Homo sapiens: one gene and its partner. The protein of the gene in region 1 purifies or fractionates together with the protein of each later gene. This does not show direct contact. Each region holds a gene or a part of one and is shown on either strand. Other genes may lie near its edges.

Region 1 (3,828 bases):
AGCTTCAGTCCTTCATGAATAAAAAGAAAATAATAATAGTAGTTACATCATGGGGCAATGAAAAAGAGAAAATAATGCATATTAAAATTTTAGCAAATTCCTGGTATATAGTAAGCACTTTATTACTGGGAGTGATGATTTCAATATTGTTGACTCAGGCTAGCAATAAAAGTAAAAGCAGAGCTAAAATAAGGTTACTAACATGAAACAGATGATCATGTGTTAATGTTTAGAGAAAACACCATTGAAAGAATATGAAAGCACACTGATGATAAGTAAAAATCTTATTATCTGATTTCAAAGTAGTAACATCTTTTGTTTTCAAAGTAGTAACATCCTTTATGTTTTTAAAATAATAACATCTTTTGTTTTCAAAGTAGTAACATCTTTTATGTTTTTAAAATAGTAACATCTTTTGTTTTTTGATTTCCTAAGTTTCTGTTTAGAATCTTTAAGCCACTAACATGAGAGATAGTGAAAATAGGTATTTTTTTCTTTCCTATTAATATTTTTCCATAAGGAAAACTAAAAAATTTGTGACTATATCAGTATGTTCTTTTGTGGAAGTAACGTGCTTATTCTACATTTCCCTTTTATCTGTGAATGAGACTGAATGAGGGTAACACCCTCATTGTCAAAACAGCTTCTGATTTTTCTTCCACTTCATCTTCTCTTTGGGGTCTGTTACACTCTTCTCAGTGGAGACAAAGTAGAAAAGACCACAGTGGAAACACCCATGTTTGACTCATTTGGCAAGATCTCTCTCAGAGAACTTTTCTTCATACTTATCAATACAAAATATCATTTTTTATCCTTTATATTATAAAAAACAATGCAGTTTTTACCACCTTGGCATACATACCTTTTAAATCTTTTAAAATCACTTAATTTAACCATTTGCATTGTGAAATCTAACATAAAAACAGGCACATGCAAACACATCTGAAAAGGTGCAGAAAACGAAGATGTACAGCCCAATGATGTGTCACTGAGGAATTCCCATGTATCCATCACCCTGTTCAAGAAAGAACATTGCTCCGGAACCTTTGTGTCCCTCCTCCCAGTGATCACTACCCTCCTGACTTTTGTGCAGACTAATCACTTCCTTATTTTTAAAAATCTTATTGCTCTGGATGCAGTGGCTCACACCCGCAACCCCAGCACTTTGAGAGGCCAAGGTGGATGGATTGCCTGAGCTCACGAGTTTGAGACCAGCCTGAGCAACAGGGTGAAACCCTATCTCTACCAAAAAAAGAAAAAAAAAAACAAAAAAAAACTTAGCTAAGTGTGGTGGCATGCGCCTGTGGTCCCAGCTACTCAGAAGGCTGAGGTGGGAGGATCACTTGAGCTTTGGAGGTAGAGGTTGTAGTAAGCTGAGATTGCGCCACTGCACTCCAGCCTGGGTGACAGTGAGACCCTGTCTTAAAACAGCAACAAAAAAACTTGCCATTTACCACCTAAGCATGCATTTCTAAACACTATAATTTAGTGTTGCCCATTTTTTGAACTTTATATAGATTCATGCAGTATCCTTTAATGATTGATGACTTTCACTAAATGTAATATTTTTGAGATTCTAATCTGTTGATATATTAGCAAGAGCTCATTCCTTGTTTTTTATTTTGTTTAGACGGAGTTTTTTGCTCTTGTTGCCCAGGCTGGAGTGCTGTGGCGTGATCTTGGCTGACCGCAACCCCCGCCTCCCGGGTTCAAGCGATTCTCTTGCCTCAGCCTCCCAGCTATCTGGGATTACAGGCATGCACCACCACGCCTGGCTAATTTTTTGTATTTTTAGCAGAGATGGGTTTCTCCATGTTGGTCAGGCTGGTCTTGAACTCCCGACCTCAGGTGGTCCACCTGCCCCAGCCTCCCAAAGTGCTGGGATTACAGGTGTGAGCCACCACACCTGGCCGAGCTTATTCCTTTTTAATGCTGAATAGTATTTCTGGTTTTTTTTTTGTTTTTTTTGAGAGACAGTTTGACTCTGTCGCACAGGCTGGAGTGCAGTGGCATAGCTCGGCTCACTGCAACCTCCGCCTCCCTGGTTCAAGCAATCCTCCTGCTTCAGCCTCTGGAGTAGCTGGGACTACAGGTGTGTGCCACCATGCCCGGCTAATTTTTGTATTATTAGTGGAGGTGGGGTTTCACCATGTTCACCAGGCTGGTCTTGAACTCCTGGCCTCAAGAGATATGCCCACCTTGGTCTCCCAAAGCTGGGATTACAGGAGTGAGCCACCGTGCCTGGCCTACCCAGAGGTTATTAAGGTTATTAAGATATTTTTCTTTTCTTTTTTTTTTTTTTTTTTTTTTTTTTTTTTTTTTGAGACGGCATCTCACTCTGTCGCCCAGGCTGGAGTGCAGTGGCTCAATCTTGGCTCACTGCAAGCTCCACCTCCCGGGTTCAAGCCATTCTCCTACCTCAGCCTCCCAAGATATTTTTCTTCTCTCTTTTTTTTTTTTTTTTTCCGAGACGGAGTCTCTCTGTTGCCCCCAGGCTGGAGTGCAGTGGCATGATCTCAGCTCACTGCAAGCTCTACCTCCCGGGTTCATGCCATTCTTCTTCCTCAGCCTCCCGAGTAGCTGGGACTACTGGCGCCCGCCACCACGCCTGGCTAATTTTTTTGTATTTTTAGTAGAGACGGGGTTTCACCATGTTAGCCAGGATGGTCTCAATCTCCTGACCTCATGATCCACCCGCCTCGGCCTCTCAAAGTTCTGGGATTACAGGCGTGAGCCACCGTGCCCGGCCTTTTTTCTATGTAATCTTTTAGGAGCTATATTTTACCTTTTACAAAGAGATCTACAGTATTGGGATTAAGTTTTGTGTATACTACAGGAGGCATGCTTCATTTTGAATATAGATATTGAGATGACCCAGCACCATGTATTGAACAGATCTGCCTCTCCCATCACTGTGTGCATGGTGCCACCTTTGTCATACATTGAGTGTCAGTATTCCTGTGGATTCTGAATGGGAGGACTTTTTCTTCTGTTATGCTAGTCTATCTGTTCTTATACCAATTCCACTGTTGTAATTACTGTAACTATATAGTATAGTTGGAGCAAGTTCCCATCTTGTTCTTTTTTGAGAGCATTTCAACTATTAGCCCTTTGCACTTCCATGTAAATTTTAGACTCAGTTTGTCAGGTTCCATTTTAAAGAAAGTTAAGATTTTGATTGAGATTGAATTGAATCTATAGATTGTTGACGTTATTACAATATTGAATCATCCAATCTGTGAATATGGTATTATTTAGGTCTTTCATTGTTTTCAACTTTTTTTTTAAAATAGCAGATTTACTGAGATATGATTCATACACTGTGAAGTTTACCATCTTAAATTGTACAGTGCAGTGGTTTTTAGTATATTCAGAGTTGTTGTGCATCCAATACCACATTCTTATTTGAGAATATTTTCATCACCCTACAAAGAAGCCCTGTCCCCTTTATAGTTACTCTATATTTTCTTCCCTCCTCCCAGCTCCTGGAAATCCCGAATCTACTTTCTGTCTCTATAGATTTACCTATTACAGGTTTTTCATATGAGTAGAATCATGCAATATGTGGCCTTCTGTCTTTCATGTGGTAATGGCAATACGTTTCAGAACTTCATTGTTACTTATGGTTAAATAATGTTCCATCATATGGGCACATATCCATTCATCAGCTGGTGGACATTTGGGTTTTCTTAACAATGTTTTATAGTTTTCAGAAATAGCATCAATGCAGAGTTTGAAGATATAATTCTGAAATGGCGTCTTTTTCATGGTTCTGTTTCTGGTCAAAGATTCCTAAGGTTTATTATTAAGTATGCTGAAATGTAAGCT
Region 2 (3,828 bases), about 19 Mb from region 1:
CATGATCCACCTGCCTCGGCCTCCCAAAGTGCTGGGATTACCGGCATAAGCCACCACGCCAGGCCGACTTGGATTATTTCAGATGAAGTTTACGTAAACTCTAGTATGGAAATATTAAAAAGTTCTGGTAAAAAAAAAGTTTGTATCCTACTGCTCTACAATAAGCCACACACTGAACTTTGACATTCAAACAGAACCAAACTGAATAAGGAGAAGAAACATTTATACCTTTAGTCTTTCTGATAATGGCTTCTCAGAAACTACTTCAAGTACGGAAGTATTTGAATCTTGACTATTCATACGAGCTACTGTGGCACTGCTAATGGTTCTCTGCTTTCCAGCTCTTATTGCAATCACATGTTCAGAGAGTAAGTGATCATGATGCTCATTTGGAGTATCTAACAGGATAAAGACCAAATCAAATCTGGATAGTAGTGCACTCCCCATTCTATGAAGGATGAAAGAAAGAAGAAACAATGATTGGAATCAAAAGGAAAAACTAGAAAACTGTCTACTCACTTATTTACTACTCAAGTTCCACGCAGAACTTGAAAAACCAAGATTTAGGTTAAAGAAATAAGCAAATAGCTTCTTGGATTCGATATATCCAACCACTGCAACATGGGCACAAGAATTACATGTATCTACCCTGGGTAGGTTGAGGACATGGCTCTTTCTCACACCCCCAAACCCACTGAATTCTTCATGTCCTATTATCACTAATTGGCAATACTGCTACATGACATATCAGAGGTTAGCTAGTTCAGTATTTTGTTCATGATACCATTAAAAAACAGAATCCAAGTCTGCTGGATTTTTGTTCAATAGATCTTTCTGATTTTTCTAATATAGCACTTTGTCATTTTACTAAAGAAAAACTACTAGTAGGTTGATTTTTTTGGTGGTGGTGGTAAATACCCTAAATCTCCAAGTACACATTGTGTATTTCACTATGTATCAAAGACTGTTTCTATATTGATACATTATTAAACAACAAGAAATTAACTCCACCCCCACTAGGCTTAAGGCTCTAATTTTTCAGGAGGTACTCTTTTGTCTTTTTCTCACTTTTGTATCACTTAAATATATTTTTCCTTTTCCACACATTTTGTCCAAGCTGTACAGAATGAATTAGAAGAGAAAGCATACATACAGATATAAACATTGTTTTTGAAAAAAGCAGGATCATACCACATATTTAAGTTTGTTAATGTGCTCTTCTCACTTAATAGTACAGCACAGACATGTTCCCCCATTAGTACATATAAAGCCACTTTCGTTCTCATAATCACTACAGTCTTATTATAGTTTTAAGGTGTTTCCAATGTTTGGCAGCAATAATGCTGCAATACCCATGCTATAAACCTATCGTTGTGCACTTGTATGACTATTTCTGTGAACAGTAGTCCTAAAAGTAGAGTGGCTATAACAAACAGAATGTGCATTTAGAATTGTGATCAACACACCAAGGGGTCCCACAAAATAATAAATTGTGTATGTGAGAAACAATTTCTTTTTCTTTTTTTTTTGACATGGCGTCTCACTCTGTCACCCAGGCTGGAGTGTGGTGGCACAATCTCGGCTCACTGCAACCTCCACCTCCCAGGTTCAAGCAATTCTCCTGCCTCAGCCTCCCAAGTAGCTGAGATTACAGGCGGCTGCCATCATGCCTGGCTAATTTTTGTATTTTTACTAAAGACGGGGTTTTGCCATGTTGGCCAGGCTGTTCTCAAACTCCTGACTTCAGGTGATCCACCTGCCTCAGCCTCCCAAAGTGCTGGGATTACAGGCATAAGCCACCCGCCCAGCCACTGAGAAACCATTTCCACACTACTTTGCCAAAAATGATTAATATTTAAAATGTTTGCCAATCTGGTGGATCTCATTCGTACTTCATTGTTTTACTCTGCAGTGTTTAAGCACATTTTTGTGCATTTATTGGACATTTATAACTTCTGTGAAATATCCATGTTTTTCCCCTGTAGTTCTGTGAACTATTTCTTTTTCTTATTGAATTAAAGTGATTCAATACATTAAAGGTATAAATATTTGAAGAGACTTACTTTAAATTCTCAGAAACTGTTTTGGCTTTATTGTAATGTCCTCCAACTGGATTTGCAGCAGCAATAATGGAAGTTCTTGCAGGAAGGCTACAAACCACACCAGCCTTAGCAAGACTAATACTTTGCTGCTCCATGGCTTCCAACAAGGCTTGATGTTGATTCCCCATCTTATCAAATTCATCGATTCCACAAATACCTACAATCGAAGTAGAATAAAGCAGAAAAAACATTTTTTCTTTGGTCAAGTTCCAAATTTTATAGGATAGAAATTGTTTCACAATAATTATTTCCATTTGTTTCAGCAGTTAAAATTATAAAATGTCATACAATGGAGAATTACTGTTTGTTCTGCAGCAAGTTAATACATTTGTCTTATTTAACTAAGTTTTGTGTAATAGTTCTTCCTTTAGCATTTTTCATACGCACAGCACTATGTTGTGAGGATTACAAAAACGAAGAGGAGGTAAGAGTAATTCTCAAAATGCTTAAGGAGTTAAATTCAAATGGGTGTGATGTTACATACACACACAAACACACATGCACAATTTAATAAGTATACCTCAATACACATATAGTAAGTTTATTATGTTTAATAAGTATATTTCAAAACCTATACCAGGTATTGACTATACACTTGTATGCACTTATAGGGAAATCACTTAATCTCTTTAAACATAATACAATGCACCACCACTAACTAAAGGCACTGTATGTACCAGGAATGTCATGTCTATTGCATAAGTTATTGGAGATTCTCTAACATTACCTCGTAATGCTTGTCTTCCTTTCTCCCCATACCAGTTAGGTTAGTATCTGGGGGTCACATCTGAAGGGCTTTGCTGTGGTTAAACCCCTCCGTATCTACTCTATACCTAAGTAAGCCTTACTAGCACAGAGGAGTATATGGAAAATAACTGCTGATTAGTCTTTTTGATCCCCAGCTGCTAACCTAACTGGTATGGGGAGCAGGGAAGACAAATATTGTAAACTAATGTTAGAGAGTCCCCAATAACTTGTGCAATAGACATGACATTCCTGGCACATACAGTGCCTTTAGTTTATTTCAACAGATTTTCTTCTATCCTTGAATCCATTTCTGGTTTCATGTTTGGGTTTTCTACTTCATGGAACCAATTATGTTGAATTTCCTTTGTTCTCTATCTCTGTTACTTCCCCTCTAATTGTATTAAGCTTTGTTCTTTTGCATTCACTGCAATTATCTCAAGCCTTTCCTCTTTATAATTTCTCATTCAGCAGTGTCAATTTTATATATTAGTTTAATAACATTGTTAGTCATCAATTTGTCTCTCATAGCCTTATCTTTTTGTTTTGAGCTATTTCATTAATGTTCTTATCAAACATGAAACACTCATGGGAAATTTTCATTTGTTCCTTAGATTATAATTTTGTCTACAGTGAGGTCTTTTACTGGGCATATTAAATGTCTTTCTTTCTTCCTACGTTATTTCTTCACAGCTGCTATGCTGTCTCTTTGCCTTGCTCATGTATAATAACGGCTGCTCTGTCCAAACCTATTTCTTCCGACACAGTATATATGAATTCTTGTCAATACGCTTTTCCCAATGTAATTTTGACCCATTTTTTCCTTTCCAGCTACAGTTTGCACTTTTTGGTAACGTAATGATTTAGGAGGGGGAAGCAAGGGGGGCTTTGTTGAACTTTGTGCCACCTTTCTTGCTGATCTCTTCTGAGAGTTCACCCCCCTCTGTTGGGAATGTGTCCCATATTCATGGCAGGGGATCCC

What was found.
Region 2: the proteins of GINS1 (region 1) and MCM8 purify together in Homo sapiens (co-immunoprecipitation; one study listed by IntAct). This does not show direct contact.

Annotation. Positions count from the first base shown.
Region 1 is NC_000020.11:25,421,165-25,424,992, forward strand, and holds part of GINS1 (DNA replication complex GINS protein PSF1), read left to right. Parts: intron 1-3,828. UniProt on the Homo sapiens protein: Required for correct functioning of the GINS complex, a complex that plays an essential role in the initiation of DNA replication, and progression of DNA replication forks.
Region 2 is NC_000020.11:5,981,401-5,985,228, reverse strand, and holds part of MCM8 (DNA helicase MCM8), read right to left. Parts: intron 2,260-3,828; coding exon 2,064-2,259; intron 449-2,063; coding exon 229-448; intron 1-228. UniProt on the Homo sapiens protein: Component of the MCM8-MCM9 complex, a complex involved in the repair of double-stranded DNA breaks (DBSs) and DNA interstrand cross-links (ICLs) by homologous recombination (HR).